Linked DNA regions of Homo sapiens: region 2 is linked to region 1. The links come from fine-mapping of genetic effects on gene expression. A gene starts in region 1. The other region holds a variant in brackets. All regions are shown on one strand. Distances are from middle to middle.

Region 1 (2,896 bases):
GGCGGCAGTCTCATCGGATTTTGCAGCTTCTGGGCCCCCAAGCTGGGCCCGCGACTCGAAGGTGACTGGGATGGTGATCTCGTTGGACTGCGTGGCTAGCTTGGGCATGGGGGCCTCCACGGTCAGTGTGCCCTCAGGGGACAGGGAGGAGGAAACTTGGGTGGGGTCCACACCGGGGGGCAGCCTGGACGTGCAGAGAGGAAAGGCAAGCGTTACATTACACACCGGGTGGGTCCCTGTGCCCTCTTCCCTGACCCCACCCCCACGCCACCCACCCACCCCGACCTGGCGCCAGGACTCACGTGTATTTCCGCGTGAAGCACCGGGAGATGTAGCCATGCTCGTCCTGCCGCTCCTCGTGCTTGCCTTTGGGGGGAAGAGGGAAATCAGACTGCGGGGGAGGGGACTGCCTTTCGGCCCCGCTAGGCCAGAGGCCCCACCTCCTGCTTGGAAGCAGCCAGGACTGCAGGCTGGTAGGGATTAACAGAGGGGGTTGGGGATGGGGGCGTGCCCGCCGGTCTGGGCTCTCAGAAACTTCCGGAAAGTTCTTCGATTCAGAGTTTTGGGAGGAACGGAGCAGGGCGCGGAGCTGGGGAGTGAGCAGTACGCAGGCGCACTTGGAGCCGCGCACACGCCCACTCAGCGGCTAGAAACTGGCACCGCGCCAGGGAACTCCCCGCTTATCTGGGGATGGGGCTGTGGGTGGGAAGGGGACTCTGTAGAAAAGCGCATTTTCTCTCTTCATCGATGATCTTTAAAAAAATTTTTGTTTGCTTTTTTTTTGTAATGGCGCGGGGTCGGGGCGGGGGGGCGCGTCTCGCTATGTTGCCCAGGCTAGTCTTGAACTCCTGGCCTCAAGCGATCCTCCCGTCTCGGCCTCCCAAAGCGCTGGGATTACAGAGCAGAAAGCGCCCTTAGAAGCGACCCGCACTCCCAATTCCTGAGCAAGGGAATCAGGAGTCCTGTTTTTCCCGGTGCTGGGCCAACGTTTAACTCCCCAGGCCCCCGGGACCCCCGTTTCAACCGCACGCCCCCGGCCCTGCCCGCCCTGCTAGCCTCCTCCTCTCCCCTGCAGGAGCAGGGGGGCTCACCGGTGATCTCCACCACGCCATCCTTGGTCTTGACCGTCAGCTCGTCCGGGGCGAAGTGGTTGACATCCAGGGACACGCGCCAGCGGTCCGCAGTGTGCCGGATCTCCGAGACCCCGCTGCTGAGTTGCCGGCTGAGCGCGCGGCTGTAGGCGGGCGCGGCCACTGCGGGGCTCTCGATGGCGGCGGGGGGCAGGGGGCGCACGTAGCCTGGCCAGCTGCTGCCGCCTAACCACTGCGACCACTCCTCCGGCAGCCGGGGCAGCCCGAAGGCCTGGTCGAAGAGGCGGCTATGCGGGTACCAGTCGCGGAAGGGGTCCCAGCTGGGGCCCCGCAGGAGCGAGAAGGGGACGCGGCGCTCGGTCATGCTGGCTGACTCTGCTCTGGACGTCTGCTCAGAAAAGTGCGGGGCGCTGGGCTCGGCTGCGCTTTTATGCTCCTCCAGTCGGGTATTTTTAGCAGGCGGTGTTTGAGGTCTCTATTAATGGCAATGACCCGTTTGAGGGCCGCCCCTCCCCATGCACTCCTCCCCCAGCGTTCAGGGGCCGTGGGCGGGGCGAAGAGGGTTCAGCCCTCATCTGGAACCTTCTCTCGTTAAGGAAAGCAAATGAATTCGAGAGCGCGACGCTGGAGCCGTGCCACGGCAGGGCACTCGCCGGCCCTGGTGCTTAAGCGTTGCTGGCTGTGGCCCGTGGCCAGGGCCGTCCTTCTGTTAAGGAGGACAGAGCCAGACAGGTTGGGTTGGGGCATACAACTGAGAAGTGGCAGAGGCAGGATTGGAACCACACGCGTGTGAGATAGAATGTGATAAAAGGAGTCTGGTGCTTGAGCCCAGGAGTTGAGGCTGCAGTGAGCTATGATCTCACCACTGCACTCCAGCCTAGGCAACAGATCAAAGTCTTGTCTCTCAAAAAAATTTTAAAAAGGGGCTGGGTGCATGGCTCATGCCTGTAATCTCAGCACTTTGGGAGGCCAAGGCAGAAGGGTCCCTTGAGGCTAGGAGTTTGAGACCAGTCTGGGCAACATAGTGAGACCCTACTTCTACCAAAAAATATTTAAAAATTAGCTGGGCATGGTGGTGCATGCCTGTGGCCCCAGCTACTCCAGAGGCTGAAGCAGGAGGATCCTTTGAACCCCGGTGAGTAGAGGCTGTGGTGAGCTGGATTGCACCACTGCACTTCAGCCTGGGCTACAGAGCAAAACCCTGTCTCAAAATAAGTAAATGAATAAATACAAATACAAAAATAAAGCAGTCTGGGCTGGGCGTGGTGGCTCACGCCTGTAATCCCAGCACTTTGGGAGACCGAGGTGGGAGGATCACCAGAGGTCAGGAGTTTGAGACCAGCCTGGCCAACATGGTGAAACCCCATCTCTACTAAAAATACAAAAATTAGCTGGGTGTGGTGGCGGGCGCCTGTAATCGCAGCTGCTGGGGAGGCTGAGGCAGGAGAATTGCTTGAACCCAGAAGGCAGAGGTTGCAGTGAGCCGAGATCTCACCACTGTACTCCAGCCTGGGTGACAGAGTGAGACTCCATCTCAAAAAAAAAAAAAGAAAAAAGAAAAAAGCAATCTAGTAATCTGGTGTGGTTGTTAGGCGTGTGGACTTTGAAGCCAGACTGCCTGAATTCACATCTTTGTTCCATCACTAAGCAGATGAACTTGTGCAAGTTAGATTCTTTGTGCCTCAGTTTCCCCATCTGGAAAATAGAGATGATAATGATGGTAACAGTCATGCATTGCATAAAGATGTGTAAGTCAGCAAGGGACAGCAAATATGAAGGTGGTCCCATAAAATTATATTACTGGC
Region 2 (2,902 bases), 31 kb after region 1:
GGGCTTATCTGGAGATGGGAGCGAGAGCGCACAGCGGAGCTGGGATACCTACCTTCTCAGTGCTCAGGGACAGGAATGCAATAATAAAAAAGAAAAGAAGGTCTCCGCATTGGGAATGCAGAATGGGGGAAAGACAGTGACCCTAAACTGTGCTCCCCCTCTGAGCCAGTAGATGGGTGGCCAATGTGGCTTTTGTCTCATCCCAGGGATGGGAGGGGGCTCTTGCACGGCCATTTCTGTTTGCTCTTTTTTTTTTCTCCTTTTTAAACAATGGGTTCCACTAGCCAAGCTTTCTTTATTGTTCAAACAACAGAAAACCTCCATAGAGCATGCAGGAAGCAGCTGATGGAAGAGAACCACAGGGTGGGCTACAGAGGGGCTGGCAGCATGGGAGAGAGGCCCATGCCGGGGGAGAGGGATGGAAAGGAAGAGAGAGAGACAGGAGGCAGACAGAGAGACAGACGAACAGACAAAGTCAGGCAGAGATAGAAATGGGAAGAGAAGGAGAAAGAGAAACAGAAAGACAGAAACAATGACAGAAGCAAACAGAAACAGAGAGGCAGGAAGAGAGAAAGGTGCCCCCAGACAGAAAGAGGAGACAAGCACTGTTTAAACAAGGCCAATCGGAGTGGACAGATGGGTGAAGGGAAAACGCGCATTTAAAAGGGAAGGCAACCACAGAGCCGATCTGGAGGAGTGGCCCTGCCTCAGGTCAGTCCCACTCCTTTCCCTCTGGCTTTGGCATCCTTTTAGCAAAATTCATCCCTTTTGCCTTTTTCTGTTCCTGTATAAGGCAGGTCAGGGGGTGCCTTGGCACCTCTTCTTGGGGGTCACCCGAGGCTGCCCATTACATGATAAAATTTGGACCACAGGGAGAAGCCAGAGAGAGCCCCAAGGCCATGATCCTGAGCCTTCTCTGCCACCCTCACCTAAGGGTGTCACCTTCCAGACAGCCCCGGACACTGTAGGGTTTTTTGTTTTTTGGGGTTTTTTTTTGAGATGGAGTCTCGCTCTGTCACCCAGGCTGGAGTGCAGTGGTGCGATCTCAACTTACTGCAACCTCTGCCTCCTGGGTTCAAGTGATTCTCCTGACTCAGCCTCCCGAGTAGCTGGGACTACAGACAGGATGATAGCTCACTGTAGCCTCCAACTCCTGGGCTCAAGTGATCCTCCCACCTCAGCCTTCCAAGTGGCTGGGATTGTAGGCATGCACCATCACATCTGGCTAATTAAAAAAAA[T/A]TTTTTTTTTGTAGAGATAGGGGTCTTGCTATGTTGCCCAGGCTGATTTCAAACTCCTGGTCTCAAGCGATCTTCGTGCCTCGCCCTTCCAAAGTACTGGCATTACCGGCATAAGTCACTGTGCCTGCCCCATCCCCTGAAACTTCTAACGCTAGAGACTTCTAAGGTGAGCAGGTGGCCCCTGGGACAGGAATGCAATAATAAAATAGAAAAGACGGCAAACTCTGTATACTCTTTTTGGGCCTTGGGAGGGTGAGCCTAGCACCAGGTTGTGCTGGTGGGGGCTGGAGGGAGGCCAGTGAAGGCACCAGGTAAGACTGGACAGGAGGGCTTCTCCCAGGAGGTCTCCTGATCAGTATCTTCCTCTTTCATCCTACATTGTGTGACCTTGAGTGACTCTCTTCCCTCTCTGTGCCTCGATATTTATTTCCCCACATGTATGAACTGTGAGGGTTTAGGGTTCCCTGAGTCACAGAAGAAACAATCATATGAGTTTCTGTAATGTGGGGGCCACCTGCACCCAGGTCTCTCAGTGTAGGCAGACCTTGGCCTAGGGACATGAGAGAGCAGGAAGCTGATTTCTGGATGGGTCTGATGGGGGAAAGCAGGAGCTGAGTCAACCAGCAACCACCTCCCAAATCCTCCTTCTGCTCAGGGCTCGTGGACTGTGCTTCCCATTTTCCACCCTCTCCACAGCTTAGCTGGAGTCTAGAGGTCAGAGTCAGAGGGCTGGAGTCTATTTTTTGTTGTTGTTGTTGTTTGTTTTGAGACAGGGTCTTGCTCTGTTGCCCAAGCTGGAGTGCAGTGGCGCAATCATGGCTCACTGCAGCCTCAAACTTCTGGTTCAAGCAATCCTCCTGTCTCAGCCTCCTGAGTAGCTGGGATTACAGGTGTATTCCACCATGCCCAGCTTTTTCTTTTAAATTTTTGTAGTGACAGGGTCTTGCAGTGTTGCCCAGGCTGGAGTACAGTGGTGCAATCATGGCTTACTGCAGCCTTGGACTCCTGAGCTCAAGTGATTCTCCTCCCTCATCTCCCTCAGTAGATGAGACTATAGGCACATGCCACCATGCCTGGCTGATTAAAAATATATATATATTTTTTGTAGAGATACAGTCTTGTTCTGTTGACCAGTCAGTCTGGAACTGCAGGCCTCAAGTGATCCTCCTGCCTCAGCCTCCCAAAGTGCTGGGATTACAGGTGTGAGCCACTGCGCCCTGCCTGGGGTCTACTTTTGGATCTACCTCTAAATAGCTGTGTGACCTTGAGCCAGTCACTTGACCTCTCGGAGCTGCAGTTTCTCCTGTAAGCATCAGAACCCAGAAAGTCCTGTGGGGTTCAACCATCACCTGGGATGGGCCAACAAAGGGGTTTGTTGGGAGTAACCACATCACTGGCCTCAGTCTCGAGATCAAGATGGATTTTTTTTTTTTGAGACAGAGTCTCGCTCTTGTCATCCAGGCTGGAGTGCAATGGCACAATCTCAGCTCACTGCAACCTCTGCCTCCTGGGTTCAAGCGATCCTCCTGCCTCAGCCTCCCAAGTAGCTGGTTTTACAGGTGCCCACCACGCCTGGCTATTTTTTTTTTTTTTCCGAGACGGAGTCTCACTCTGTCACCTAGGCTGGAGTGCAGTGGTATGATCTCCGCTCACTGCAACCTCT

Evidence for each region. PIP is the estimated chance that this variant, and not a neighbour inherited with it, causes the effect.
Region 2: its variant is fine-mapped to the expression of HSPB1 in whole blood (TOPMed, PIP above 0.99).

The regions. Positions count from the first base shown.
Region 1 is chr7:76,301,272-76,304,167 of GRCh38, reverse strand. It overlaps HSPB1 (heat shock protein family B (small) member 1), which reads right to left and starts at 1,495. Exons shown (of 3, transcript NM_001540.5): 1 at 1,092-1,495; 2 at 303-366; 3 at 1-184. The coding sequence starts at 1,455.
Region 2 is chr7:76,270,746-76,273,647 of GRCh38, reverse strand. The region is part of intron 11 of SRRM3 (serine/arginine repetitive matrix 3); the gene reads right to left. Among named protein-coding and RNA genes, the nearest start is that of HSPB1, 30 kb to the left of the region's middle. RefSeq lists enhancers at 422-511, 522-631. The variant T/A (reference allele first, on the strand shown) is at 1,240.